Regions from separate parts of the Homo sapiens genome. Here regions 1 and 2 are each linked to region 3. Evidence: fine-mapped expression QTL. A gene starts in region 3. Each other region holds a variant in brackets. All regions are shown on one strand. Distances are between the middles of the regions.

Region 1 (10,295 bases), 20 kb before region 3:
TGTTCCAATAAAACTTCATTTACAAACACAGTGGGCGGGCCAAATCTGGTGGGTAGTTTGCTGACCTAAGGGCTAGAGGGTGACTTCTGATGGAGGTGAGGGTGAGACTACTTTAGGCTGTTTGAGATGGCATCAACCTTGAGATGCGTAAGAAAAAGGCAGCCGTTCTGTAATTTACCCCTCCCGCTGTAACGACTCTTCCCGCCAAAACTGTCTTTCAAGTTAGCCAATCGGGCTCAGTTTAAATTGTGCTGTCCAACTCCAGCCAATGGACACAGTAGTAGGGACAAACTGCATTAAGAATAAAAAAACCCTTTCCCGCCTTTGTTCGGTGTGCTCTTGTGACAACCAGTCCTGCGAGAAACAACCTTCTACAGAAATAAATTGGCCTTGGTGAAAAATCTTTTGTTTAAGTGTTCGTTTTCTCTGCGACTCTGAGCTTTACTTCCAACAGATGTGGGGGTGAGATTACTTTAGGCTGTTTGAGATGGCATCAAACTTGAGAATTATAAGGAAAAGTCAGCCATGGAAAGATCTGGGCAGTGTTCTAGGCAGAGAAAACCAAAGCCTAAGTTGGAACAAGCTTAGTGTGTTCAAAGGTCAGAAAGGCCAAGATGGCAGAAAAAGAGAAAGTTAAGGAGATGCTGGTGTACAGGTCAGATAGGCAGGCAGGAACCTCCGTTCTGTTACCAAAGAAATCATAGATTCCCTCAAAGGTCGAGGATGTGGCTCATTGACCTCCTCAATCCCTCCCAATGCCTGGCACCTTCTCTTGTCTATGGTAGGTATGTAACACATATGAGGAGTTAATTAAAATTCATCAGGTTAAGAATGTGTTGGTCGAGAGGCTAAATAGTCTATCATCTTGTGGTCTGTGGACTGATTCTAGTCCTGTTTATTACCAGTCTATAGTGAGAAAACAAATTGAGACTGACTGACTTATTTATTTATTTATTTTTTGAGGCGGAGTTTCACTCTCGTTGCCCAGGCTGGAGTGCAGTGGTGCGATCTCGGCTCACTGCAACCTCCACCTCCCGGGTTCAAGCTATTCTCCTGTCTCAGCCTCCCGAGCAGCTGGGATCACAGGTGCACACAGCCACGCCCAGCTAATTTTTGTATTTTTAATAGAGACAAGGTTTCATCATCTTGGTCAGGCTGATCTCGAACTCCTGACCTCAGGTGATCCACCTGCCTCAGCCTCCCAAAGTGCTGGGATTACAGGTGTGAGCCACCACGCCCGGCTGAGAAGATATATTTAGAACCCTTTATAGCAATGACATTGCCACAACACCCAAGAAAACTTTCATTGTATTGAAAGTTGGGCTGTAACAGATTGGAAATGTAAAATCCTGGCTCCTTTTACCAATTTGAGAAGCTCTGGCTTCTACTCTCCAACCACCTGTGATCAGCACACCAGCTAAGTGGACGAAATTGGGAAAGACAGTAACTCCTCACTTAACGTTGTTGATAGATTCTTGGAAACTGCGACTTTAAGGAAAATGACATGCAGCAGGTCCTCACATAATGTTGGTTCTTTCTAAGTCATTTTGCTTCAAGTCACAGTTTCCAAGAACCTATCAACAACATTAAGTGAGGACTTATTCTTCTTTGTTGAGCCACGTAACTATTCCTTGGTATGGTGGCTCATGCTGATTTTATAGATAGATATATTTTTATATAAAGTAAATTAATATACATCATAGCCTTGCATGTGATCACATGCCTACGGAAAAAATTCCTCTCTTCCCAGGACACTGACCAGAGTTGTCAAGCCAGACTTATAGCGGTCTTCGCTGGTTCCTGGAGTCACCACATCATCTTCGGCACCTGGCATGGCAACGCCGCCTTCCAAACCTGTAGTCTCAGTGTCATCTTCTGGCTGGCCTGTGCTGGCTGAAGAAGAAAGATTGAGTCAGAGCTTAAGGTGGAAATTGCATAAGCAGACCCAACTTGTCGGCTACATTCGGATTATTTTCTTTTCCATTTCTTTTGGAAATTTTTGTTTTATTTTTGGTCCTTTTTGTGGCTTACTGTGGTGCCAGAAACCAAACCATTCTCCTTGCAGCACTTCTGACACATCAACACCCTGGTTATCTCCGTTGCAAAGCAAAGGAAAATGAAAACATTAAAAGGTAGAGCAGCCAGCCCCTCCCTGGGGCCCCATCGAGGTGGCCTGGACAGGGGACGTACATCTTTCCTTTTCAATAAGGAACCAGATTCTTCCTGGTGTCATTTCATATGATGAATTAATATATTCATCTGGACCTAAAAACTCTAAATTAGAGTCAACAGGAAAGATTTCTAAACACACCCCTTTGCAGACCCGATGCAAAAGCGGGGTCTCCATCTTTTTATTTTTTTATTTTTTTCTCTACCTTTTCAAATTAATTTTTCTTAAGAGACAGGCTCTCCCTCTGTTGCTGAGGCTAGAGTACAGAGGCACAATCATAGCTCACTATAACCTCAAACTCCTGGGCTCAAGCGATCCTCCCGTCTCAGTCTCCAAAGTAGCGGGGACTACAAGTGCTCACCACCACACCCAACTTCCATCTTTTTAAAAGCAAACTCTCTCTCCATTTAATTTTAAGACTGCTGTTCACTTGGACAATTAGAACCACAGGCTCTGACCACAGACCTCGTAGATTACATGGAGTTTTACCTCTTACTTTACAGTTGAGATTACTGTCTACAGGGGAGGGTCAGTAATATGCTTAGGGATGCCAAGACACCAACAGAACACTTAGTACACCAAGAGCCAAACTAGCTGGGTGCAGTGGTTCACGCCTGTAATCCCAACACTTTGAGAGGCCAAGGTGGGTGGATCATTTGAGGTCAGGAATTTGAGGTCAGGAATTTGAGACCAGCCTGGCCAACACGGTGAAACTCTGTCTCTACTAAAAATACAAAAATTAGCCTGGTGTGGTGGTGGGCACCTATAATCCTAGCTACTCAGGAGGCTGAGGCAGGAAAATTGCTTGAATCCAGGAAGCAGGGGTTACAGTAAGCTGAGATCGCATCACTGCACTCCAGCCGAAACCCAATCTCCAAAAAAAAAAGAGCCAAACTAATGAACTGCCCTTGGCCCTGGCTTTTCCGCATTAACATTTGGACAAATGATGTGTCATGCCAATGAGAAAGGTTTCTGGGCCAGGTGTGGTGGCTCACGCCTGTAACCCCAGCACTTTAGGAGGCCAAGGCGGGCGGATCAGAAGGTCAAGAGATCGAGACCATCCTGGCCAACGTGGTGAAATCCCATCTCTACTAAAAATACAAAAATTAGCTGGGCATGGGGTTGCATGCCTGTAGTCCCAGCTACTTGGGAGGCTGAGGCAGGAGAATCGCTTGAACATGGGAGGTGGGGGTTGCAGTGAGCCAAGATCACACCACTGCACTCCAACCTGGTGACAGAGCAGGACTCCGTCTCAAAGAAAAAAAAAGGTTTCTGCTGGAGCAGGGAATTGGAGTGGACTACCAGGCTGAATTCTACAATGAGAGATAGAGCAGATAACAGCAGTATCCTCTTCTTCAACTTCTGTTGCAGTGACCCAAACTAGTCATGACCATGCTCAATTATCATCTCCAAAAATCACCAAACAACCCTCTTTGTGCATTAAAAATGTGACTCACTGGCCATGGGCTTCTTCCCTAAACTCCAGTGGTTCTGGAAATTCCATGACTAAATACAGTTGCAAAATAAACAAGCATACACATCCCAGGAGCGAGGGGGAGGGAGGTGCTTGGAAATTTCTTTGTGTAATGAAAGAGCAGATGTTTGTTTGTCTCTAGGCAGCACTTACATTAGCAATCCATTCCTTGCCTTAAGATACCTTATTCTCCCCACTGCTTAGACAGCACTTATATCAGCAATCCATTCCTTGCCTTAAGATACCTTATTCTCCCCACTGCTTAGACAGCCCAGCCAGAGGCACAGCTAATAAATATTTGATTATAGCTTCTTTGATGCCTAGAGGAAGCCTCTGAAGTTAGTTCACTTGTTCTATGAGCCTGCTCTTTTATTCTAGAGTCCTAATCCAGTAGAGATGGCTTTGGATGAGCTACCTACACATTTTTTTAATCTGGGGGTGTACAGCGAGGGGTTTACCAGTTAGCAATAACCGAATATTTCCATGCATGCAAATGGTTTGCCTCTCCATGTGGCCTTTTGCTGGAGTAGGGGTAGAGGTGAGGGTTGGTGATTGGCTCCTACAAAAATGTATGACTTGTGGTGTAGGCAAACGCTTACTGTGTATTTATTGAGCTCAATGGGAAATATCCCTTTGCCAGACAAGTAGTCCTTATTAAAAAACTTACTAAGCTTCCCATTTTATTTCTTCCTCACCTGGTTTGAACTTAGTTAACAAATCATCAATTTTAAAAACGTTTTCTGGAGCGGTTTAGTACAATCACTTACTTATTTGGTGTATCTAACTTAAAACAATCCTTGCTTTAAAAAAAAAAAATCAAGTGCTCAATGAAATTAGATTGAATTCTTTCATAGAAAGCTCAGTTCATTGAAAGCGTAACTTTATAAAAATTCCTTCTTGTTCTTTTCTACCCTTGGCCCACAGAGCCAAGTACTAAAATCGCTCTGAATGGACAAAAGGCGTTTTATGAATGATAG[TCAGG/G]ATTAAGATGCATGTCTTTTGTCTCACCGCCCTAGCATTCTTTTTGCTCCATGGGAAAGCTGAACTTTAACAAGAGATCCCCAATTGTCCCTCTTAGTATCTTGGCTGAAGGATTCCCTGGGTGAAGAGTTCCTACTAGGCCAGCTGCCGAGTTTCCAGCCAGCATCTCATGTCTTTTCCCCTTCCTCCTGAAATTCAAATCATGGATGCCTTCACTTTCCAATCCTCTTTTCCCCAAGACATATGTATGCACAGGCATACATATGCACGCACACACGCATACACACACACATACAGGGATGCACATATGTGCAGACACACAATTGTTTCTACAAGTGTAGAGTGACGAATTTGCCATCATAAACCAATACCCACAACCTAGCTTGCAGGTTCAGTTCTGGAGTGGTGTACCAGCGTGCTCACATAAACACCCTTTCCTGCCACACCCAGCCTCAGCCAAACACGGCTCAGTGGAAGTTTCCAAATGCGGCAGCAAACGATCCACTTACTTTGAAATTTGTTGTTGTTGTGATTATTTTAAAAAAGCTAGGCAGGGCTGGGCGCGGTGGCTCACACCTATAATCCCAGCACTTTGGGAGGTGGAGGTGGGTGGATCACGAGGTCAGGAGTTCAAGACCAGCCTGGCCAAGATGGTGAAACCCCGTCTCTACTAAAAATACAAAAATTAGCCTGGCACAGTGGCAGGTGCCTGTAACCCCAACTACTCGGGAGGCTGAGGCAGGAGAATCACTTGAACTCGGGGGGCGGAGGTTGCAGGGAGCTGAGATCATGCCACTGCACTCCAGCCTGAGTGGCAAAGTGAGACTCTGTCTTAAAAAAAAAAAAAAAGCTAGGCTGAAGTTTCTATTTCCTAGGAGAAGATGATTTGATAAATCAACTGTCACTTGGGGTTCTTAATTTTTGAGAACAAATAAACGTAAGCAATGCTTATTTATATGAAATCACTAACTATGAATAACTTTTATCTTTGCATTCATGTCTAATAACTCGCTAGATTGCACACATTACAGGATGGCATTTCTTTTGTCTTTTCTTTGAGATGGAGTTTCACTCTTGTCACCCAGGCTGGAGTGCAATGGTACAATTTCGGCTCACTACAACCTCCGCCTCCTGGGTTCAAGCGATTCTCCTGTCTCAGCCTCCCAAGTAGCTGGGATTACAGGTGTGCACCACCACGCCCAGCTAATTTTTATATTTTTAGTAGAGATGGCATTTCACCATGTTGGCCAGGCTAGTCTCGAACTCCTGACCTCAGGTGATCCGCCTGCCTTGGCCTCCCAAAGTGGGCATTTCTTTTTTAAACAGAATTTCTTTCTTTCTATCTCTCTCTGTTTTTTTCTCTCTCTCTCCTTTGTATTTATAGAGATGACATCTCATTTTATTTTTATATATATATATATATTTGTAGAGACAAGGTCTCACTACATTGCCCAGGCTGCTCTTAAACTCCTGGGTTCAAGCAGTCCTCCCACCTCAGCCTTGCAAAGTGCTGGGATCACAGGCATGAGCCACTGTGCCCAGCCTGCCATTTCTTTAAAAATACTTTAGAGTTGGCCAGGCACGGTGGCTCACGCCTGTAATCCCAGCACTTTCGGAGGCTGAGACGGGTGGATCACCTGAGTCAGGAGTTCAAGATCAGCCTGGCCAACATGGTGAGACCCCGTCTCTACTGAAAATACAAAAAAAAAAATTAGCCAGGCATGGTGGTGCACACCTGTAATCCCAGCTACTGGGGAGGCTGAGGCGGGAGAATCACTTGAACCCAGGAGGCAGAGATTGCAGTGAGCCGAGACTGAACCATTGCACTCCAGCCTGGGAGACAAAAAAAAGAAGTACTTTTGAGTTTAGATGTAACATTCAATCAGGCTGTTATTGTAATAGTCCAAATTCTTAATAAAAATCTTTTAAATAAGTGATTTCAGTCTTCTGGTTTTATTTACACTTCTTTGATTTGTGGAGCGAGTTGTTTCATCCATTTGTCTTCTTTTGTGACCGTTTTTGTAATGGTCACATGGCATTCCCTCTTATAAGCACTGTTCATACCTTAAGAATGTATTCTTTGGCCTAAATGCTGCTGGCATTTTTTTTTTTTGAGACGGAGTCTTGCTCTGTCGCCCAGGCTGGAGTACAGTGGCACGATCTCGGCTCACGGCAAGCTCTGCCTCCTGGGCTCACGCCATTCTCCTGCCTCAGCCTCCCAAGTAGCTGGGACTACAGGTGCCCACCACCACACCCGGCTAATTTTTTTGTATTTTTTAGTAGAGACAGGGTTTCACCATGTTAGCCAGGATGGTCTCAATCTCCTGACCTTGTGATCCACCCGCCTCGGCCTCCCGAAGTGCTGAGCCACCCAAAGTGCTGAGCCACCCAAAGGCATGAGCCACCCAAAGGCATGAGCCACCCAAAGGCATGAGCCACCCAAAGGCATGAGCCACCCAAAGGCATGAGCCACCGCACCCGGCCTACATCTTTCTTTTGCAAATGACCAAGCTATCAGTAGTCAAACTTCTTAAACTTGTTTTCTCTTTGACATCACACTCACAAACTCTTCCTCAAGATCACATAAATATTCACCTATGTTTTCCTTATGGTATTGTACTTACGTTTAATATTTTTGTCTGTTTATTTTGAAGTATTATAATAAAAGAGAAATATAATTTCCCCCCAAAAGATTAGCCAATCACCCTGATAAATCCTCTTTTCCCCACTGCTTCAAAACCAGCTGTCATTGAGACAAATCTTTTCTTTCCAATACTATGTCATGGCTGGGTGCAGTGGCTCAGGCCTGTAATCCCAGCACTTTGGTAGGCCAAGGCAGGCAGATCACCTGAGGCCAGGAGTTTGAGACCATCCTGACCAACATGGCAAAATGCTGTCCCTACTAAAAATACAAAAATTAAGTAGGCAGGATAGCACATGCCTGCAGTCCCAGCTACTCAGGAGGCTGAGGCAGGAGAATCGTTTGAACCCAGGAGGCAGACGTTGCAGGGAGCCAAGATTGTGCCACTGCACTGCAGCCTGGGTGACAGAGCAAGACATGGTCCCAAAACAAACAAATACTATGTCACAGTTACAGGAGAAACTTAGCACAAGGCCCAGCTTAAGTGGCCTGGACACTGCCAACTATCCCCACTCCACATGGGCCCTCTGTCTGCAGAGTCTCCAGAAGCTGTTTCTAAATCCGTGCTCTCTTCACTGTAAGCTCCCTCTTCCTCCTCACATCAGCTGACAGCTGCTGAGTTAAATCAGTGACCAGGGAGTAGCTAGAATAAAACTCAGTGTTTAGGGCAAGGAGGAAAAGTAAGTATTCAAACAGGTGCATTTGGGGTCGTTCAAGATCTGGCACTGACGCAGCATTGTAAATTCCACTTAACGTGGAAGACACCTCATTGTCCTAACACCCTCTCACATTTGCTACTCACAATGTAGGGTTTACATGGCGTCTCCCAGCTGACTTTATTTCACAACAGCGCTGTGGTGGCTAGGCCCTTAGCCTGCCTTCACAAAGAATCTTGTTAGGCCAGTTTAGCAAGAGTCCCCCCAACCCCATCTCTTAGGAATTTTCCACCCACTGATCCCCTCATTCTGCTTGTGGGCTACAAATCCCCACTTTTCCTTTCACCCAGAGGTGAACCTGAGCTCTCCTCCCTACTGCAATGCCCCTTATTACAGGGGTCTTGACTAAAGTCTTCCGTACAATTTCAACAAGTGTCAGAATTAGTGTTTCTTTAACAAGGTCGGAAGTTAAGTGATGTGGCCCAACGCGGTGGCTCACGTCTATAATCCCAGCACTTTGGGAGGCCAAGGCAGGTGGATGACCTGAGGTCGGGAGTTCAAGACCAGCCTGGCCAACGTGGTGAAACACCTTCTCTACTAAAAGTACAAAAATTAGCTGGCCATGGTGGCGCAGGCCTGTAGTCCCAGCTACTTGGGAGGCTGAGGCAGGAGAATCGCTTGAACCGAGGCAGAGGCTGTAGTGAGCTGAGATTGTGCCATTGCACTCCAGCCTGGGTGACAAGAGTGAATCTCCATCTCAAAAAAAAAAAAAGAGTTAAGTGATGTGCCAAGTTCATGATTCATTAGCGGACACAAAGCCAAATATTCTAACCGCATCCCTGGACTCACCAACATACAACTAAAAAGCAGCTGTGCATTTTCGTGATGTGCTCTCCCGGCAGCTTTGGGCTAAAATGCCTGCTGCCTCCCTCCCTGGGTTCTGAGATCCTTCCCCTTCTGCCCAGGTGCCATCCTCATCTTCCCAGAAATCACGTTCCTGGTAGTCAGGAACAATTGCTTCCCCTGGTACCTCACTGCCTCTTATGAAATCCCATCTTGTTAGAATCTTCCAGTCTTATTTAATGACCACAGTCTTGACCTCCTCCAGTGTGTCCCCTTACTAGGAGAAATCTGGACGAATCTAAACTTTCAGCAATGGCAGGTTAGAAGGAAGGTATGACTCACTCTAAAGGAGGTGTTGCTTTGAGCAGCAGCAGCCCTCTCCCCGCTTAACTGTGCAAGTTAAGGCAGCAGCAAAAACCAAGACTGAAGCCTGCATGAGTTCACCTCTACAGCCCCAGCTCCCAGCATTTATATTCCTTCCACAAATATTTACCAAGCACCTGCCAAGAGCTGGGCCACATTCTCATCACTAGAGACAGAGAAGTGAATAGGTAAGGAAGATCTCCACTCTTAAGGACTAGAGTACTCTTGGAGTGGGGTGGGGTCACCATAAAAAAATAAGCAACACATCAGATAAGCTATTAATCCCAGCACTTTGGGAGGCCAAGGTAGACGGATCACTTGAGGTCGGGAGTTTGAACCCAGCCTAGCCAACATGGTGAAACCGTCTCTACTAAAAATACAAACATTAGCCAGGCGTGATGGTGGGCCTCTGTAATCCCAGCTACTCAGGAGGCTGAGGCACAAGAATCACTTGAACCCAGGAGGTGGAGGTTGCAGTGAGCTGAGATTGCGCCACTGCACTTCAGCCTGGGTGACAGAGCAAGGCTCTGTCTGAAAAAAAAAAAAAAAAAAAAAAAAAAAAAAGATAGCTTCTCGAACACATCAAGATAGCTTCCCTCATGCCTTCAGATCTCAGGGAACTTTCTGGCCGGGCATGGTGGCTTACGCCTGTAATCCCACCAGCACTTTGGGAGGCTGATGCAGGTGGATCACACGGTCAGGAGATCGAGACCATCCTGGCCAACATGGTGAAAACTCGTCTCTACTAAAATACAAAAAATTAGCCAGGCGTGGTGGTGCACACCTGTAGTCCCAGCTACTCAGGAGGCAGAGGCAGGGGAATCCCTTGAACCCTGGAGGCGGAGGTTGCAGTGAGCCAAGATTGCGCCACTACACTCCAGGCTAGTGACAGAGCGAGACTCCATCTCCAAAAAAAAAAAAAAAAAGGAGGGGGGGCACTTTCTTGGACTGTCCATTTAAGCGAGTACCCCTCCCCTCTTCCACGGCACATATACCTGAATGCTTACCCCCACCCTGCTACCTGCTCGCTACTTGTCTGTCCTACTGGAATATAAGCTTGATAAAGGCTGCCTCATCTCAATGTCCACAATGTCTGAAATCCCTGGCACATACCAGGCACTCGGTAAGTAGCTGTTGAGTGAATGGGTGAGTTCCAGATAGGGGAAC
Region 2 (10,295 bases), 36 kb before region 3:
TGGGCGACAGAGCGAGACTCCATCTCAATAAATAAAGAAAGAACTTCCCTATTCCCCACTGGCTGCAGAAATGATGTCTTTGAAATGCACAACTGTTGAGCTGATGGGGAGACAACTGATTTTAAAGATAACAAGTGGGGCCGGGCGCAATGGTTCGCGCTTGTAATCCCAGCACTTTGGGAGGCTGAGGCGGGTGGATCACCTGAGGTCAGGAGTTCAAGACCAGCCTGGCCAACATGGTGAAACCCCATCTCTACTAAAAACACAAAATTAGCCGGGCCTGGTGGCGTATACCTGTAATCCCAGCTACTCAGGAGACTGAGGCATGAGAATTGCTTGAACCCGGGAGGCGGAGGTTGCAATGAGCCGAGATTGCTCCACTGCACTCCAGCCTGGGCAAAAAGAGCGAAACTCTGTCTCAAAAAAAAAAAAGAAAAAAGAAAAAAGAAAAGAAAAGAAAAGGACAAGTGGACTAAACAAAAGAGGGATGGAGAACAAATAAAGACACCTGCATCCTGGTTGTACTTCGGGCATTGGGTAACTCTAGTTTTACGTAACTCTTTGAATCTCAATTTCTTCACTTGTAAATTGGAAATAATTTCTGCCCTGCCTGCTTCACAGGGATGATATAAGAGTAACTGACTATAATAATAGAAGTAAGAAGTGGTTGTTGGAATAATTGTGTTAATTACAGAATAGTCTCTGTGTTTTCATACAGGCATTAAGCATTCATTATTTACTTTAAAGCTGATAAAAACTTTGTGATATGAGTATTATTTTTCACACCTTTTCAGGCGTTCATCTTCCCATAGCTACCCCTGTCAACAAGGAACGGACAATGACTTGCGGGGGCAGAGTGGGTATCTGCAGTAAGCAGTGACCTGGGGCCTGGCACAGGAAGCTCTGGCCAACAGAGGCCATGGTGACCAGCCAGGCCAACCCGATTTCCTTAGACATCAGAAGTCCCGGAAATGTAGAGTGAATCAGTCTGCTGGTAGCCAAGGCTAAAGCTGAGAGAATACACAAAGAGAGGCCATGGAGGCAGGGTGGGGCCTTAAGAGTCCATGTGCGATTTAAGGGGTGAATCAGTGGACATTACCAATAAGCAGAAACCAGGAAGTAGAGAATAGATGCTCAGAGCAGAAAATAAATCATTGGTTGGTAGTGGTAGGAATCACAAAGGGAAGAAACGTGAAGGGCTAGATCACCCTAATATTGGCCACCAACACATGCCCATGTGGTTTTATCAGTCAGGGTGCCAGCAGGAAACACATGGCACCCTCAAAAGAGTGATGGCAGAGAGTTGGATGAAGGAACTGTTTGCCAGTGGCAACACAGGGTTAAGGAAACCAAAAAGGGACGGTGAAGCACCTGAAGGTTAGTGATCGTAAGAAGCCCTTAGCATCCATAGGTTTAAAGACACAAAAAGAGGAGTTTGTTCCTGGAACCTGGTGAGACTTATGGTAAAAGCAAAGGGCCACCCAACAGGAGCTGGGGTTTTTGGTAGAAAAACACAATGACTGGACCAGGCGTGGTGGCTCAGGCCTATAATCCCAGCACTTTGGGAGGCCGAGGCGGGTGGATCACTTGAGGCCAGGAGTTTGAGACCAGCCTGGCCAACATGGCGAAACCCCGTCTCTACTAAAATTACAAAAAATTAGCCAGGCATAGTGGTGTGCGCCTGTAATCCCAGCTACTCGGGAGGCTGAGGCAGGAGAATTGCTTGAACCCAGGAAGTGGAGGCTGCAGTGAGCCGAGATCGTGCCACTGTACTCCAGCCTGGGTGACAGAGTGAGACTCTGTCTCAAAAAAGAAAAACACAATGACTGGCAGCATGTGGCCTTGCAGAGAAGAAGCCGGAAGAATAAATACTTCAGCCTGTCTCTTCTGTTGCCCTTGGATCACCTCTCAGTGCCTTCCATTGGCCAAACCCAACCAGAACCTTGAGAGCAAGAGAGCTTGGTTGATGTAGTCTATTCAAGTCAACCTCTCAGGTCACAGAGTCAGGGGAAGAAAAGTGGAGAATAGACTCACCAGGGCACAGGAAAACTGTCCAGAACAGTGGTAGAGGTGTCAAGATAATCCAGAGTCCAGTGCTGTGTAGAAAACTCTCAGTTCCTGTAGGCTGAGCTATGTGGTTGCTTGGGGGTTCCCGTAGGATTTATTTCCCATGTTTTCACATGGGAATGTGTATATATGTAACACATAACATTGCATAAAGATGCTTTCTTTCTGAGTCTTGGTTCCTTTAAATCAAGAGTGCGATGACGTAAAAACGTTAAGCAATTTCCTCCACACTGGAAGTAGGACAGCCTGGAACCAAAGCTGCAATAGCCAGGGTCTAGAGCCATGCTCTTTTCACTTGACTACAGTGGAGGTACAAATGTGATATCAGCCCCATGATAAAGTATAGAAGCTGCCGGCGCCTACGGCCATACCATTCTGGATGCGTCTCAGAAGCTAAGCAGGGTCAGACCTGGCTGGTACTTGGATGGGAGTATATCAGCCACTGGGTGCTGTGGTGCATGCTTGTGGTCACAGCTGCTCAGGACCCCGAGGTGGGAGGATTGCTTGAGTCCAGGAGTTTGATCAAATCCAGCCTGGGCAACATAGCAAGACCCTATCTCTTAAGGGAAAAAAAAAGTGTAGAAGCCCTTGACCATCAAGTTATTTTGTAGGAAATCACTGGATCACTTTTAGAATGTGGTGACATGTGCAAACAAAAAAAGTACATTTTAGGAAGATCCCATTGGTAGAATGCAGATCAGATTGGAGGAGGGGATGTGGGCATGTAAGTTTGCAATTGTGATGAGATTTTGCTTGAGGATCTGAATTAGGAGGCTGATGGCGCACATGTAAAGGGGGAGGCACTGTTCACTTGTTATGTGCCAGTTACTGCTGCAGGGACCAAGGATGTAGCCGAGAACCAAACAGATGCCTGCTCTTCTGGAGCTTATGCCATTTGAAGCTCTAAGAATAGATGAGTTCTCCAAGGGAAAGACCATAGAGAAGCAAAAAGTAAGCCTGAAGCATGCCTGTGAGCAAAGAGGGGGAAGTGAAGAAAAGAGCCAGTGGAACAGCTTGCAGAGAACCAGGAAGGGCAACCAATAAGGGAGCATGTCATGCAGGCCAAGCGAGAGAAGACGGCTTCAAGAAGGGGACCAAAAACAGGGCTGATGGCTGCAGAGGATGAATGAAGACAAGACCAAGAAGAGGGCCTGGAATTGACATACAGGAGGTCATTCGGAAGCTTGATCAGAGCAACTCAGTGCAGCGGATGGATGCTAAACTGAGAGGTCAGTAGGAACCATTATAGTTGGGACTTACAATAGAAGTGCTGTCTAGGGAAGAGAGTTGGACGCCCAGCATGCAGGAGGATTTTGATGTGGTCATCATTCTGGCCTGAAGATTTATAGTTTTAAAATCCTAGTTGCATAACAGTAACCGGGGTTGAGCAGGTCCTAGGACCTAACTCATGCCAATCAACTCATAAGAAACTGATTATAACCCCAAATGTCAAGTTAGTAATTTTCAACTAATAATATTTTCCAGTGGTGGGAATATTTGTGTCCATTATCCAGGACACCCTCGTTCCAGTATTAAGCTACTTGGGGAGCTGGATTTTTTAATTTATTTATTATTATTATTATTATTATTTTTTTTTTTGAAATGGAATCTCGCTCTGTCGCCCAGGCTGGAGTGCAGTGGCGCGATCTTGGCTCACTGCAACCTCTGCCTCCTGGGTTCAAGTGCTTCTCCTGCCTCAGCCTCCCGAGTAGCTGGGACTACAGACGCCTGCCACCACGCCCGGCTAATTTTTTTTGTATTTTTAGAAGAGACAGGGTTTCACCGTGTTAGCCAGGATGGTCTCGATTTCCTGACCTCGTGATCTGCCCGCCTTGGCCTCCCAAAGTGCTGGGATTACAGGCGTGAGCCACCGTGCCCGGCCGGAAGCTGGATTTTTAATCAGAAGACTGTGAGATGGTACGGAAGAGAACAACAGGAATGGCTAATCCTGAAATGTATTTCATCCAATCCATGGTGGGAGACTCCTTTGGTGATCTCTCTGCATATCCCTGACTCTTAACCTTGAGGTACACCAAAGCTCAGTTCTTGGACTTGCCTTTCTCTATTTATACTCTGCCCATGGTGAGCTCATCAGCATCATGGTTGTTAGGTTCTAGCAAGTCCCAAATTATGTCTCCAGTCAACTCTCATTTAAACTCTAGACTCATGTGCCCAACTGCCTGCTTCATACCCCCAGCTGGATATCTGTACTCAGCTCAAATTCTGCATGTTCAACACAGAACTCCAACTCTGCCCTATCAAGCCTGCAGCATCCACAGCCTTGCCCTATTAACTGATAGCAACTCCATTATCCTAGTTGCCCAAGTCAAAATCCTTAGTGTCACCTTGACCCTCCCATTTTTCTCATATCCCACATCCAATCTATCAGATAATTCTGTTGACTTCATTCAAATTATCACTAGAACCAGACCACCTTAAACCACGTCCACTGCTATCATCCTGGTCTGAACTGCCATCATCTCTTGCTTGGATTCTCACACTGGCCAGTTCCCAACCAGAGGTGAGGATTTTTTTTTTTTAATGTAAGTCAGATCATGTCACTCCTCTGCTCAAAAGCTTCCCATGGCTCCCCATTTCCAAGGGCACTCCACCTCTCTGACGTCATCTCCTACCATGGTCCCCTGCGCTGACTGCTCCAGCCTTCTGAGCTTCCCTGCATTCCCTAAAACATGCCAAGGGTGCTCCTGCCTCAGACCTTTGCTATGCCCTTTGCCCAGAATACTTTTCCCTCAGGTACCCATCAGGATCACTCCTCGCCGTGCCACTTCAGGAACATGGCTTGACTCTCAGAGAGGCCTTCTCCCACCCCAGACTCCATGCTGCAGCTCCTCCAAACTTGAACTTCCTCTCCTTGCTGTGTTTTTCTCCATTGTCTCTCATTTTCACACTCTTATGATTTACTTATTTTTTTTTTGCAGTCTCCAGCATTAGAATGTAAGCTCTATGTGAGCAGGAATTTTTGTTGGTTTCATGCACTATGGATTCCCAGCACCTGGGACGGGCCTGAACATAAATATTTGAATGAATAAATAAATGAAGGAACAGATTACTCCTGTCCCATGAGAGTTCTTCAGCAGTTATACCCAAGGGAGTGTCTTTTGTTTCTGGATCTTGCTGGACAAGAATCCTACTCCCTTTCCAGTGAGCCCTGGGCCATCCACAGATCCAGCCTCACCTACAGATGCTCTGTGGAAGGGTGGGAACAGGAGCAACAGGAAGGGGTCCACCTCCTGCTTCGGTCAGGACACCTGCACACCTTCCTGAGGTTACATGCGGAGGACCGTAAGCTCATTTATTCAAACAAATATTTCAGACGACCTCTTTGACTACTTCAGCAGCATCCAGAGGGAAGCCGTCACTTCAGAAACATTTGCTGATCGCCCTGGTATGTGACCAGCACGTGATTGTTTTCTCAAAAATTTGCATCAGTGGAAAGGCAGAGGCAGCAGTAGAGAAGGAGGTAGGAAAGAAAAAATGGGAGGAGGAGCAAGGTCTCAGAACCACGCATAGGACTGTCTGTACTATGGCC[C/T]GGAGCCCTTGGATGTAGAAATAGAACACGCTGTGCTTTGAGTCAGCATCTGATAAAATAATCTCAGAGTAAGAAACAGTGCTGAGGAATAGTGTTTAGTGCTTTCAGGCTGGCTTTGCCTGTACCAGGTACGTACCTGCATGCTGGGCCCCTGAGCCAAAAAAACTCCCATTCACACCAGTGAGTGTGATTTTAGACTCATTCTGCATTGTTGACCAATAACCACACTTACATCATTTATATTTACTGAGTTGAAAAATCCAGGATCTATTATATGTTCTAACCCGATTTTAAGCTTCAGGAAGAGCAAAGAAAAAGGCAATGTTTCAGGGAACAAGTCCTCCAGCGCACACAAGGGGATGACTCTATTTTTAGTGCATGTGTTAACATGCAGCTATATTTTGGGGAGGATTCTTTTTCCACTTCCAATGGACTTTTAATTGGCAAAAGTTTTAATATCAAAACGTGCACCATTCCCCAATCGAAGCATGTCACAAACTGCCCCATGCCCTGAATACTAAATAAATCTGAATTAAAATAAAAATAGAGACAGCAAAGGGATTAACAGTTCCTTGCTCTTTCCTATTCATGAAAGCCAAGCCTTGAAGGTGGCCCATGAAGCAGAACTAAGCCCTGGTTTTTCAACTGGTTTTCCCAGGTTGAGGGGAAAAAGTAGGGGTTAAAAACAAGGCCTTTATATCATGCAAAGAGCTAACCTCAGCACCCCCTGCTCCCAGATGTCTCTGATAGAGCTGTTTCCCTAAACTTTCAGAACCCTGGCAGCTCCCCCAGTTTCCAGTCATCTCCTGGGGGTGGCATGTAATGGAATGTAAATTTACATGTAACATAGTTGAGGGTCCGTTCTCTTTCAATCTGTTGGACTAGGTAGACGTGGTTAGTTTCCTGCTAGAAAAGGGATGCTTTCTGACATCTCATGAAAGTTCTTAGAAGAAACTGCAGCCCAAAGAAGTTAAATGACTTCCCTGAAGGGTTACAGGTGTGGAGGAGCAGAACAGGACTAGAACCCTGGTCCATTTTTTAAGAGATGGGGCTCTCACTTTGTTGCCCAGGCTGGCCTTGAACTCCTGGCTTAAACGATCCTCCCACCTCAGCCTCCCAAACAGCTGGAACTACAGGCATACAATATGGTTCCTTGTTTGGAACTCAAATGGGCACCCAGGATTACTGACAACGGACAAATTCAACAGTCCTAATTTAACAATATTGAATATTTATTTCGAGGAAGTCATGGGGCTAACTGCTCTCCCGCTCCTAGCACCTGATCCTTACGCTGGCAGGGAAGGGACCCGCATCAGGAGGATAAATCCACATGGAGTGGTGCGGTGGGGTCGGGAGGAGGAGATCTGCAGCACCCACCCAGGAGCTGGCCAGGGCAATCTCCAGACAGAGTCGGGGTGAGCAAGGAACCGTGGGGCGTCCCCCAGCAACAGGGATTCACCTCTCCTGAGGTGAGGTTTCTAGGGAGGACTAGCAGGGGCAAGATGAAATTGCCCCCTCACCTGGTTTTACCCTCCAGTGCTGAGAAATTAATCAGGTGGCTGGGCACAGTGGCTCACACCTGTAATCCCAGCACTTTCGGAGGCCGAGGCAGGGAGAGATCACGAGGTCAGGAGATCAAGACCATCCTGGCCAATGTGGTGAAACCCCGTCTCTACTAAAAATACAAAAATTAGGTGGGTGTGGTGGTGCACGCCTATAGTCCCAGCTACTTGGGAGGCTGAGACAGAATTGCTTGGGCCCAGGAAGTGGAGGCTGCAGTGAGCCGAGATCGCGCCACTGCACTCCAGCCTGGGCGACAGAGCGAGACTCCATCTCAAAACAAAACAGAAAAAATCAGGGAAAACCTCATTAACCCTTTGGGACCAGAGAGGGAGAGAGCCCCCAGGTGCCACGTGTCTCCCATGCCCATGCTTCTACTTGACCTCTCTACTTTGGCAGACCTAGCTGAAAGGTGTAGGTGTGTTTTCCTCCTGTGGAATTCATTCCCCTGGCCATCTATAATCCACTCTCAAGCAAGGCAACAGGCAGGCATTTACCTAAGTTGTAATCTTATCTGGAGATGTTCCCAAGTGTGGCCCAGACTTGTGTTTTCCAACAAAAGTCTGACTCATTGTTGTACACAATCATTTGTTTTATTTGAAAACATGTCTACACTGCATTGAGCACCAACACAGGTGTGACCAAGAAACCCACAGTCCTGTCCCCGCAGGCACTGGGTCCAGTGTATGACTTGGGGTGGACTGTTATTTTTCACAGTGAGGGGGGAAGAAAGGATAGGAAAGAAAAGATGGCCATTATCCCAACTCCTGTTCAGGAATCTGAACAATGAGTTATTTAAACTCATCCAGCTCTTCTCATTCCCCTTCTCTCAATCAGCTGGTGTTCAAATATGGAATCTGAGGCCGAGCGCAGTGGCACACGCCTGTAATCCCAGCACTTTGGGAGGCCGAGGCGGGCAGATCACGAGGTCAAGAGATAGAGATCATCCTCGCCGATACGGTGAAACCCCATCTCTACTAAAAATACAAAAATTGGCCGGGTGTGGTGGTAGGAACCTGTAGTCCCAGCTACTCAGGAGGCTGAGGCAGGAGAATTGCTTTTTGACATCCTGACACATGTATAATTGCCGGGAGGCAGAGTTGCAGACTACGTTTCACACACACACACAAAAAAAATGGAATCTGAGCTGGTGGGGCCAGCTGGATTTGGGAACACACAGACACACTGTTTAAAATAACATCCAGACATCATTGCAAAAAATGGGAGGAATGGGCTGTGCTTCCGAATGATAGTTTACTTTTTCCTGTTTTATGAATGCTTACAAATTTAGAGGATACCAGAATTGCACAACCGCCATCATGACAGAGCATCTGCTCAGTGTAAAAACTTTGTTTAGGAAAAAAAAAAAAAAATCCAATGGATATATGGGAAGAGAAGTGCCAGGCTGGATGGTGCTGAGACAGAATGACCCCTTGGGCTCCTTTATTTTGTTCTTTTCAACAGGACCCCACAGATATTTGCGGTATGTCATGAGGACTGGGGATGTCTTCTATTTTTAAATCAGGTATTTAGTCAAGCTGCTTTTAATATTAAGACTGTACAAATTGATTTTTGTTCCCTGTATCTTTCCTCAGAGGCAGAAAGTGAATGTTATAAAACTGGCAGATTTTATTTCTCATACCAGAGGCTCACACAGGATTTCTTTCTGCATGGGGGACAACTGGCTCTTGGTTTCAAACACACTTGAGCCTCTAGCACCATTAAGCATCCAGCAGCTTCCTCGGCATCCAGGCTGAGATATCCATATTCCAGAACAAAGCAGCCAATGTGAAGGATGTGCATCACTGGGAAGAGAGAAGGCTGCCCCCTTAGCCCTGGCTCCTCATCATCTGAGGGAAGTGGAGGGGGCAGGTGGGAGCAAGCTTAGAGTCACCAAGTCATGGCTGGAGAAGGATTTGGGTAAAGCAACTCTAGAGGCTGCCTGGTGGCCTACTTGGGAGAAACAAAGTGCCTTTGAGACTATCGACTTCCTGCTTGTGATCTAAAATGGATGTCTTTGAAATGATTAATCTGGACCAGCTAAAGGCAGTTGTTCACCACGTGTTATCCAAGTTTAGATTTCCTAGTTGATTATTCACACCAGATCAGGCTTTAAAAGATAGACCAAACTAGACCAGAATGTGTACATTTCAGCAGATCAGCAATTGCAAAATGCTGGTGCTATTTACTGACGTAGCACTGGATCCAAGGACTCCGTGGATATAAATATTTCCAGATTCCTCTGCATTTTAACAATAACAAGAATGGTCAGACGGAGACACATGGTTACAGCATATAATATCGATCCAATGGTCCAGTGTTAGTTACAAATCAGTTTATACAGTTTTGCTCCATTTTCTATGAATTTTGTCTTTCAAATAATCTTTTATAGAATGTATATTCAAAAACATGTTTGAACAGCAAATGTTTAGAGGAGCCAAGTCTGGTGAACGGTCTTTCCTTCGGTTATTTTGGCAAGCGGAGAGGTCACCGTGGATTCTGAGTGGGCCAGGCAAGTGTTCCACGGGTCATCTTCTCCCACGAGCTCAGGGACAGGGCACAGAGTCAGAAACGGTCTTTTTTTAAGCACGTTGGCAGCAGGGCGTAACCCTTCAGCTCTTTAGGGCCTGTGAAAATAGAGAAGGGTGACGGTCGTGTCTCTTACTGGCATTGTGAATAGTAACTCCGTGAGTCCTTTTTCCTATTGTCCTTTGCTCTAAATCTTCCAAGTTCTGACACCTGGTGATCATCTCTTGTTCCTGACATTCCTCCTCCATGCCTTCGTCCTCACACAGCAGGGTCAAACTGCCTGGCTTTTCCAAACACGCTAAGTCCACAGCTGTGTTGTCCCCTGTATCCCTCAACCCTCCAGGTGTTTATCACTTGTCCTCTCCCCTCCCTTCCATCATATATCATCCCTCCAACTCATATAAGAAAAAGGTTTTTGGCTGGGTGCGGTGGCTCATGCCTGTAATCACAGCATTTTGGGAGGCTGAGGTGGGTGGATCACGAGGTCAGGAGATTGAGACCATCCTGGCCAACATGGTGAAACCCTATCTCTACTAAAAAATACAAAAAATTAGCCAGGTGTGGTGGTGCATGCCTGTAGTCCCAGCTA
Region 3 (10,295 bases):
AAGAAACAGGGCTTAGAAAGGGGTTCACACACGCTAAGCACTCAGTAAACGCTAGCTGTTATTATATTGTTAGCGCTATTAACACCAGCCATTCAGAATCTAGATCCTGTAGCTTTACAGATTCACATTTAATCTTATGGGGAGATTTGGCTCAGAACAAACTGTTTCCCATTAGCCAAGCTCACAAGAGGCCAGAAAACCAAATAGTTTATTTAGAACAGGAAACTGTTTTCCAACGCTTTGTATGCATATTTGCTGTCCAAGGCATGCCCTTCTCAGGGGTGAGATACCCCACAAGATGCTATTTTTTGTATTTACAACAAAAGCAAAGGGTGGAGCTGTCGGGTGGAATAAATTTCCAGACTGTGACAAAACAAAGACATCTGATTCATCACAGAACCACCTTGATTGAGATCAGAATATCCCCAGTCACCACATATGACACCTTTCCTACTAACGGTAAGCAGGGATGGGGTTTGCCTTGTTCCCCACTGCCTGACTTACACAGTAGCTATTCAATAAATAGCTGTTCAATAAATATTTATTGAATAGTAGCTATTCAATGAATTGTTGGCCGGGTATGGTGGCTCACACCTGTAATCCCAGCCCTCTGGGAGGCCAAGGCAGGCTCAGGAGTTCGAGACCAGCCTGGGCAACATGGTGAAACTCCATCTCTACTAAAAATACAAAAACAGTTGGGTGTGGTGGTGCACACCTGTGGTCCCAGATACTCAGGAGGCTGAGGTGGGAGGATCGCTTGAGCCTGGGAGGTCAATGCTACAGTGAGACGAGATAGTGCTACTGGACTCCAGCCTGGGTGACAGAGTGAGACCCTGTCTCAAAAAAATACATATATTATATATATATTTTATATATATGTAAATATATAATATATAGTTATATATTTATATTATATATTATATATGTAAATATATAATATATAGTTATATATTTATATTATATATAATAAAAATATTTGTTAAATCAGTTAATTCTTTGGGCAGGGAAGGTTTAAACATCAACAAATTCTCATTCTTCTCCTCTTCTAGGCAAACTGATTCCCTTCTCTTTGGGGCAGGACAATATTCGCTGTATCACAGCTTTTTAAATGAGTTGTGTTCTGTTCTCCCGGATGGAGACACCCTGATGAATTGTGGGAAGTGCCCTGTTCTCATCAATAATATGTTAAAAATATTCTAGCATGCCCCTTTCCTGCTTCCCATTTACACTCTGTGTATCTGGCATTTGTACATGCTGCAAACATTAACAATGGTGATTGTTACCCCAGTGGCTCAGGGTTGGTCTCCCTCTATTGCCTACGGCACTTTGTGGCCTGGCCTCTCTGGATGGGGGTCAAGAGCCCATCACATCTTTCTCCAGGGGTGTGTGTGTGTGTGTATGTGTGTTTGGGGGGGCGGGTTCATGAAATTTAGCATTGCCTCACAATGTCAGCTTTCAGCTCCTCAAAAAACTACATGAACGAGTTGGCCATACCTGCGTACTTCCCCCTGGACTTAGCTTGATTCACTTCAAAGGACAAATCCATCTCTGAGCAATTCTCAAGGCAAAGACACTCAGCCAGACAAAAAGGAGGGTGAGCCCTCCTACCTCTTTCGGCTGACACTCAGGGGAGCTTGCCATCATCTGACTGGCTGCCAACAGGCCGGTGGACAGGGGCTGGGGTTAGACATGTGGGAAGGAAACAGTCACCTTGTTTTCCTGCCTTGGATGGAATTGGCAGAATTCCAGTTATTCCCTACCGGGGCTCTAGCTCACAGCCCCAGATAAAATGCCTAATCACGGAGCTGTATCTCTTGCCCAGCAAATGAGAATCCTAAGACTCATCACAGTAACTGTCCACTTGGAAGTGTCCAGCACCCTCCATCAGTTGATTCTCTTCAATAAAACGTGCACACTGGGTACTTCCCTGAGAAGTTTTGGGGCACCAAGAGTGGCAAGGCTTCCTGGAAAAGCCCTACAGCATCTGATTCAGATTCGTCAAATAAATTTCACCAGGGTAATCCTGAGTAGTTGAGTTCTCTCTCCCTCCTCCTCCTCCTCCCCCGTCGTATTTCCACAAGTTATAACCTGGCCTGCCTCCTTTCCAAAGCCAGAAATATGACAAATATTCAGATAAGCCGATGGAATTTGAAAGTGCATGTTCATTGCTTTGCTGGTGAGGACTGCAGGGCACACTTTAGCATGTGAGGTGTGCCTCTCTCAAAAGTGCATACAGTTCAAATTCTGCATCTAGTAACACACCAAGAACTCAGGAAATGCTTAATAACTATTTGCAGAATGAATTAATAAATCCTATTTTAATGTATTATGACAATTTCATTCTTAAAAGAACATTATGGGGAGCATTTAATGTAAAGGAATTCTCGTATCTTTAGAAAATTTTGTTTCTACGTTTAAGAGGCTTAAAGTGAGGTTAACCTTTAATTTCAAGTTCAACCTCTTTACTTTGTTTTTATATATATTTTTGAGACGGAGTCTCGCTCTGTTGCCAGGCTGGAGTGCTGTGGTGTGATCTTGGTTCACTGCAACTGCCGCCTCACGAGTTCAAGCGATTCTTCCGCCTCAGCCTCCAAGTAACTAGGACTACAGGCGCGCACCACCATGCCCAACTAATTTTTGTATTTTTAGTAGAGACGGGGTTTCACCATATTGGCCAGGCTGGTCTCGAACTCCTGACTTCATGATCCGCCCGCCTCGGCCCCTCACAGGCGTGAGCCACCATGCCCAGCCTCTTTTTTTTTTTTTTTTTTTTAATGGCAGAGTAGTGTAGTAAAAAGATCTTCAGGTTTGAAGTTAGACATATTTTTCAAACCCAGTTCTGGTATATTCCGAGATAAGAGTATGTAATTTACAGGTATTATGATGATTGAAAGAAGTAGCTAGCAATATTCCTAGCACATGGCAGGCGATGGGAATGAGAGGATGGTTGTGTCCTTTGGCCTGACCCTCCACTGTCTTGCCAAGGCTTGAGGTCCTTATAATTCTACAGTGTAGAGTCACTCGCGTGCTGCTCATTTTACAGAAGCCAAAGAAAGGAAGGAGTTTAGTCCCTTTGGCCACGTCCAGACTTAGCCTTCTCATGCCCGGACACATTTTTTAAATTGTGCTTTTCTATATTCAATGCTATTTTGGATCTTATACACCAGTGCAATGCAGAGGCCTCCCTCACAAAGCCTCTAACAGACCTGATCTTTATTAAGTGCCTTCAGTGCAACAAAAACTCTTAACAACTCATGAGGATTTCAGGGCCTCCAAACTGGCAAGCGTTTCGGGGAAATCACAGGGAAATTTGTTGGCCGCATGATTAATCCTGGGTGGATTGGTCCCGGAAAAGCACATGTGGGTTAGCAGCGAGCAGCAGCTTGCAGAATCTCACAAAATAAACTCTCTAATGAAGTGGCCCCCAAAACGTGCCTTCCTGATGAAAGTTCAGCATGAGGGTGGCGCCTGACAATGGAAAAAAATGCCAGATGTGTGGACAACAGACCTCCTTTGAATCCACTAACACCCAAAGGGATGACACATGGGACCAGATTATAAAACTGAACCAGATTATAACCCTGGAGGAGGGAAACCCAGTAGGGCGTAGGATCTTATGAAAAGGATCATAAAATTCATCACCATAATTACCCCCCAGCCCAGCTCCCCAACAAAAGCCCACAATAGCTTCGCTCAATGATGTTATTCATCCATATTCAAGTCGCCTCGCTCATTATTCTCAGACAAAAACCCTGCTGGGCCTCTGCTCCTCTGGCAGCCAGGCAACTCAGCACCCACCCTCACTCAGCCAGCCCCGCATACCACTTCTTTCTTTAGTAGTGGAGTTTCCAGCACCAACGATGGTTTTTCGGTTTTAACGCCATCTTTTAGGAGTACCTTTGACATTCAGGAGCCGGCTGAAGGGAATCACAGCTAAAGCTTCCCTGGGCAAAAACAAAGGATGTTACCCAGCAGCTTTTTCTTTAGCAGGGCTGAGATGCTGAAGTGAGGGCGCTCCCTTGCTTTGCCCTGGTGAGCACAAAACGGTGTCATTTGCACATTGTCTCGCCAAAAAGGAAATGTAACTGAAAATACAGAACTGTATATATTCCAGTGGAAAGAGAAGTTCCAAAGATAGGACTGCTACGAATAACCCACGGCCCCTATAAAAAGAGTTGCTCAGTCCCTTTGAAGCAGACAGCACAGCATAGAGCAGAACTCTGTCATTTCCCTGAGATTGGGTATTTTTGTCTGTGTGGACCATTGTAGGAGGCCAGGTTAGGCGCACCCCTCCTGCAAACCGCTCCCTCTCCAAGAAGTATTCCTCAGGGCCTAGGCCTACCTTGATCCTCAATTTTTGGAAAATGTTTACTTTTCACAGCATAACTCAGCAACCTCCAGCCCCAAAGATCACGAGTTAGGTTACAATTCCTTCAACCAACATTTAGTGAGCAACTACTATGTGCCAGGCATTGTTTTGGCCGTGGGGAATCATGGCTGGATGTAGCTGCGTCCTGCAGAACATATGTTCTATTGAGGAAATATAAAAATAAAAACCCAAGAAAAGAAAACAAAATGTTGACAGATGTCAATGGAGACCACCAACACAGCAACCCAGCGGGAAGAGGTAAGGCTCCAGGAGAGGACAAAGGGTAATGGAAGCTGTGGACGCCCCCACCCCAACATGGGATACAAAATATTTAAAGCCTAAGGAGTCACCAACAGACATTCAGCCACTGATGTTGTTGCCCAAGATGAACACGTGGCTCAAACCCACTTAAACCTCAATGTTCGTAACGCGTAACAATCCTCATGCACTCACACTCCTCGGAAGCCTCCACTTGGATCCTTTCCACACACACTATCCTCTCTAAAGAGGATAAAGGAGGCCTCTTCCAGTCCAGTGACGGGGTGCTGAGTGTGTCCAACAGGCAGGGCGCCAGACTAGGTAGTCCCAAGGGGGACCAGGGCCACCGCAGGGCGGGGAACCCTCCCCTTGGCCCAAGCCCTCCTGAACGTCCCTCCTGATTCTACGAGGCCAGCTTCTCCCGAGGCGTGCGTATTCCTCCAACACACCGCTCTATGGGAAGGAAACCCCAGCCACTGCTGCCAGCAAGCGGGGCTGCCTACTGTGAACCTTCCACCCGATCTCTCTGGTGCTGCCGACTCGGAGGGAGGCCCCCTGTGCTGCCCACCTCGCAGCCTGTGGATTCCGGGGCTCCTCCCGGCACACCCGCGCAGCTGCGTCTTTGGGACCTGGCACCGACTAAGCCGCTGCCTCTCCTCCTCCGGCGCTCAGCCGCCTGACACGCACACACCCTCAGCTCCCCCGCGCTCCCCTGGACAACCTCGAATACCAGGCCCGGGCATTCCAGCAAGTCTCTGCTCGCTCGTCCCCATCAGCGACGGCAGGAAGCCACTTGCGCTGGGTCTTACCTCCTTCTGCCAGGACCCAGAGCGACGCGCTTCCCAAAACGAAGAGCAGAGCTGACACCTTCCACATCGTTCCCGTTGAGTTGTTGCTCTCCTGGGGGCCGAGCAGCAAGATTCTGAGCTGGGGGAAAATTAAAAAGCACCGCGGCCACAGGCCCAGCCTGGAGGAGCGCGACGGTGGGGGGGCCGGAGGGGTGGGAGCAGGAGCCCCGGAGAGGGAGGGTGCCCGAGCTTCCCAGACCCTAGGCAGCCGGACAGCAAACTTTGCAGTTGAGAACTTTCCGAGCGGAGTCAGCATTTATCTCTCCCGAGGAGGCGGGGGAGCGGGGTCGGCCGCAAGGTGGTCTCCGTCCGGGCGCGCTAGGCCCGCCCTCGGGCTCTGTTTGGCCGGCGCCAAAACGATGATCTCAGGCCAGGTTTAAAGTTACAGGGCCGCAGCTGCGGGGGCCGCCAGGACTGCGGGCCCTGGCAAAATGGGCTTTTATTCTGCTCAACAACAGGAGGGAAAGGGACCACATGCAACAAACGGGGTTTTAAAAATTATATATAAATTTTAAAAAACCTATATTTATTATTATTATTTTTTTAAGAGTAAGGCACAAGTCTATGTTTTTCTTGTTATGGGCAGAAGTGAGAAGTAAACTGTTTCTTGAGTGGCCAGTAGTTTTAGAACCAAGCATGGGGTTTTTCCTGTAAATATTGAATTTGATGGCTTAAAAACAAAAAAAGTTGGCCGTCATCTGGGTGGGCCAGAGGCGGCCCGCGCTGGTCAATTGCGCCCTTGTCCCGGGGACCGGAGCGGGCGGGCTCCGGGGGGCTGCCCCAGAGCTGGCTGGTGGGGGAGTTTGGCAGACCGGGTGGCTTTGGCAGTTTTGAAAAAGAGGCTGAACTCCATCCGCCTCTGCCGACCCGGGGATCCAGCGCTGCGATGCTGTGGCCCACCGACGTGCGCAGTTGGATTAGGCCGGGCCAAGCGGTGACCCGTCTGGTCGCCAAACCTGTGTCCCCTTCCAGGCCTGGTTCACCCTCTTTATTCCTGAGTTTGCTCCCATAATCCTCACTTTACTGGTTTAAGCGATCTTGCCTTGATCTCAGGTACCAGATATCAGCAACCAGAGAACTTACGTCTTTTACTTTAATTCCTTCTGAATTGCTGGAATTTAAAAAAATAAGAACAGGAGTTTGGGAAGTGGTCTCTGCTCCACTCCCAGATGCCACAAATTCCATTCAACAAAAGAACCTGAAGACTAACGCTGTCTCAAAGCTCCACATTGCGTGAAAATTGTTTTCAGATGCTTATCTTTGACCCCTCCCCATTATAAATTTACTTTCTAAGAATCACAGGAGAGATTGTTTTAAATAAATGCCCAGTTTCCTGGGTTCCACCCCAAACTCATTAATCAGACCTTTTCGGAATTCCTATTTTAAACCAGTGTCGCTGGAGAACTTGTCCCCATGAACATTTGGCAAACCTTGCCCTTCATCATAGCTTCTCAGCCAGATCTACCTGGGGCACTGGTTATGCAGGTGCAATTCTGTTGTGGGATAGGGAGAGATTCTGCATTTCTAAAGATCTCCCAGGTAACGTCTTGTCCTGGGGCTACAAACAGGAGCTGAGCACCTGAACCTAGAAGATGAGGGGTAGCGGCAACACCCCTAGAGCCAAGGAGTTGGAAATGTAAAGAGAAAACTCGTGATACAGATACTCTTTCTTGAACTGACTTCCCCATCTTGGAGATGCATTTTATGACTCTAGTGTCAATAATGTCTGTTGACAGGAGGAATAGTGCATTGTCTGTTGAGCCTGTTAGATGGAGAATAGATGCACATCTATTCTGCTTATGTGTAACTCCAAGGTCACACACAGAAAGAAAGATGGCCCGCTTTATTCAAAAAGATTGAAACACAGTGAAGCCTAGGTGGGGGAGATTGGGTTACATGCAACTAATTTAGAGGGATGCTGAGGCTAGGTCATGATTCAAGGACACCTGCCTTCTATCCCACACCCCCGGATGTGTCTAGAATCTAGAAGGTTGGTCACATGACCTTTTGATCAGGATGGAGGAGTGGGAGGTAATAAGGAATTGCATTCAGCTGGGGGTCCTGGGGTGGGGAGAGGGGCCAGGATGAAGGAGTTAGTGGATCGGCTCTGGGTGCTGTTGGTCTGAAAACCTAGAGAGAAAAGCTGGGTCTTGGGAGGGGGAACCTGAAGACCAGAGGGAAGAAAGAACTCACCCTCCTGGACCAGATAGAGCCAGCAGCTCATGAGAGAAGGAATATGGGCCTTGGGCAGCGAGACTCGGTTAGCTAAAGGAGCTGAAGTGAAACACAGGGGATCTGGAAGCATGAGACCCTGCTCAGCTGAGGGGAAGAGGGAAAGAAGGAGGGTATGTGGCTCCATTCTTGGCAAACAGCTTAAGCTCAGAAAGCCATGGCCATGAATGATGATGCGTTACTGGTGAGATAACAGCAGCTGCTACATACTGGCCTTTATCTTCCTGCCAGGAACACGCACTATTTCCTTTCAGCCCCAAAACAACGGTTGGCTTCCAAACATTGATGATACCCATTTCCTACACAAGTGAGGTTGAGAGTGGATTCACCTGGAGGGCTTGCTTGCCTGGAAGGCAAGACTGCTGGGCTCCACTGCCAAAGTGCTGATTCAATAGGTAAGGGGTGGGGCCCAAGAATTTGCATTTCCAACAAGTTCCCAGGTGATGCTGAAGCTACTGGTCCTGGGTCCCCACTTTGAGGACTGTGGGTTTAGAGGCCACCATGCAAATTGTGTGGGATCCTACAAGGTAGGAGCGGTGGGGTCATGCATTTCCATTGCAGAGCAGGAGTTGAGCCTGTTACTAGCACTGTGCCTGTGCCTTGCAGGACTGTGTGGGAAACGTCTGTAAATTGCTTTTAGGAAGCAAGAGGACCCCCAAAAGGTGTGGACCAGCAGTGGAATGAGGAGCTGAGCCAGAGCTGCCAGTTTGGTACCTTCCACCCTGGGGGATGCTGGAGATGACACATCAGGGTCTCCTCAAGCTCTGTGTTTTTCTGAGGGCTCTGCAGAGTCCAGAGAGCACCTGGCTGAGCTGCTCCAGGCAGCCTGGGCTGACCTGGCTGGGAAGATGCTTCTCAACACACAATGGGACACCAGCCCCCCAACCCGCAGTGGTTCATACCTGTAATCCTAATGCTTTGAGAGGCAGAGGCGAGAGGATCACTTGAGGTGAGGAGTTTGAGACCAGCCTGGGCAACATAGCAAGACCCTGCTTCTATAAAAAATAAAAATAACATTAGCCAGGTGTGGTGACACGTACCTGTGATCCCAGCTACTCAGGATGCTGAGTTGGGAGAATCACTTGAGCCCAGGAGGTCAAGGCAGCAGTAAGCCATGATCATGCCACTGCATTCCTGCTGGGGTAACAGAGCTAGACCCTTACTCTATAATAATAATAATAATAACTTTAAAAATCAATATGCCATGTTCCAGAGCTGAGATACCCACAACTGAATCTCTGACAGCAAAGGCAGCTCTATGGCCCAGGAATAAGTAACACACTTACGGGTTTGAGTGGGACCAAAATTCTGATTTATAACCCAGACCGCTACAACTCTGACTGGACAGAGGACTGGCCTTACAAACATTCTCTCCTGATAAGCTACTGCACACCTCAAGCCAGTTTCAGCAGCTGAGAGAGGATGCATACGAACTGTCTTTGTGTCCTATAGTTCACATTTTGACGTAAAGAACCAAATGCCACCTCATTTTAACTAAAACCCCGCTCCGAAGTGAACATGAGATGTAAGTTACAAGCATGTTTACCCACCGTGCACGCACATGACTCCCCTCGTGTAAATGGACAGCCTTTCCTTCAAACCTGCTACATAGGAACACAGGCCCTGGAAGGCAGAAAACTCAACCTGCTGTCTTTGAAGACAGCACCTTTGGTCCAGCTGGAGACAGTCTCTTTCTCATTTGTAAACTGACATCGCCACTAATATTAGCCTTTCTAATATGAGCCATCCTGGTGGTTTTCTGGACGGCACGGGGAAAGACAGTTTCACACTGCCAACCTGGGACTAAAGAGATTTTTTTCACCCCAGGAAATGCTCCATAAGAAGATATGGGATGGATAAGAATCTGCTTTTTTTGTTTGTTTTTTTGTAAATTGGGGTTGGATTATTGGGAAGGTGCTACATTTTCCCAGAAGTTTCAGTAGAAAACTTAGGAGCCAGGGCCGTGTGTGGTGTCTCATGCCTGTAATCCCAGCACTTTGGGAGGCCAAGGCAGGCAGATCACCTGAGGTCGGGAGTTTGAGACCAGCCTGACCAACATGGAGAAACCCCATCTCTACTAAAAATACAAAATTAGCCGGGCGTGGTGGCACATGCCTGTAATCCCAGCTACTAGGGAGGCTGAGGCAGGAGAATCGCTTGAACCTGGGAGGCGGGGGTTGCGGTGAGCCGAGATGGCACCATTGCACTCCAGCCTGGGCAACAAGAGCGAAACTCTGTCTCAAAAAAAAAAAAGAAAAGAAAACTTAGGAGCCAGGGCAGTGGTTCATGCCTGTAATCCCAGCATTTTGGGAGGCCAAGGCAAGAGTATTGCTTGAGGCCAGGAGTTCAAGACCAACTTGGGCAACATAGCAAGACCCTGTCTCTACAAAATAAAAAATAAAAAATTATAAAATAGAAGAAAACTTAGGAACATTGAGGCATTGGAAATTGATCCCCTTGGACCCATCCTTGCTGGCATTCTTCTGGGGAAATCTGTGTGCATCTACCATTTGAAGGCCCCTGCCCTGTACCCCTGCGGAGCTGGATCTCCTCCCAGCAATAGGGCTGTCTCATGCCACCCCACTGTA

Direction of the effects. Alleles are on the strand shown, and positions count from the first base shown. SD is a standard deviation of normalised expression in the study named.
For the expression in cerebellum of the gene that starts at base 5,705 in region 3, allele TCAGG in region 1 goes with a lower level than allele G (small effect, 0.27 SD a copy in GTEx).
For the expression in skeletal muscle of the gene that starts at base 5,705 in region 3, allele T in region 2 goes with a lower level than allele C (small effect, 0.31 SD a copy in GTEx).

The links.
Region 1: its variant is fine-mapped to the expression of PDPN in cerebellum (GTEx, PIP above 0.99).
Region 2: its variant is fine-mapped to the expression of PDPN in skeletal muscle (GTEx, PIP above 0.99). The same link has a PIP of 0.9 or more in breast, esophagus muscle, fibroblasts, gastroesophageal junction, sigmoid colon and subcutaneous fat.

What each region holds. Positions count from the first base shown.
Region 1 is chr1:13,598,771-13,609,065 of GRCh38, reverse strand. It overlaps PDPN (podoplanin), which reads right to left. Exons shown (of 6, transcript NM_006474.5): 2 at 1,760-1,893. Among named protein-coding and RNA genes, the nearest start is that of PDPN, 20 kb to the right of the region's middle. The variant TCAGG/G (reference allele first, on the strand shown) is at 4,622.
Region 2 is chr1:13,615,414-13,625,708 of GRCh38, reverse strand. It overlaps PDPN (podoplanin), which reads right to left. Exons shown (of 6, transcript NM_006474.5): 6 at 7,752-9,804. The coding sequence ends at 9,798. It also overlaps the pseudogene RNA5SP41. Among named protein-coding and RNA genes, the nearest start is that of PDPN, 37 kb to the right of the region's middle. The variant C/T (reference allele first, on the strand shown) is at 5,618.
Region 3 is chr1:13,579,242-13,589,536 of GRCh38, reverse strand. PDPN (podoplanin) reads right to left here and starts at 5,705. Exons shown (of 6, transcript NM_006474.5): 1 at 5,437-5,705. The coding sequence starts at 5,503. RefSeq lists an enhancer at 5,264-5,802.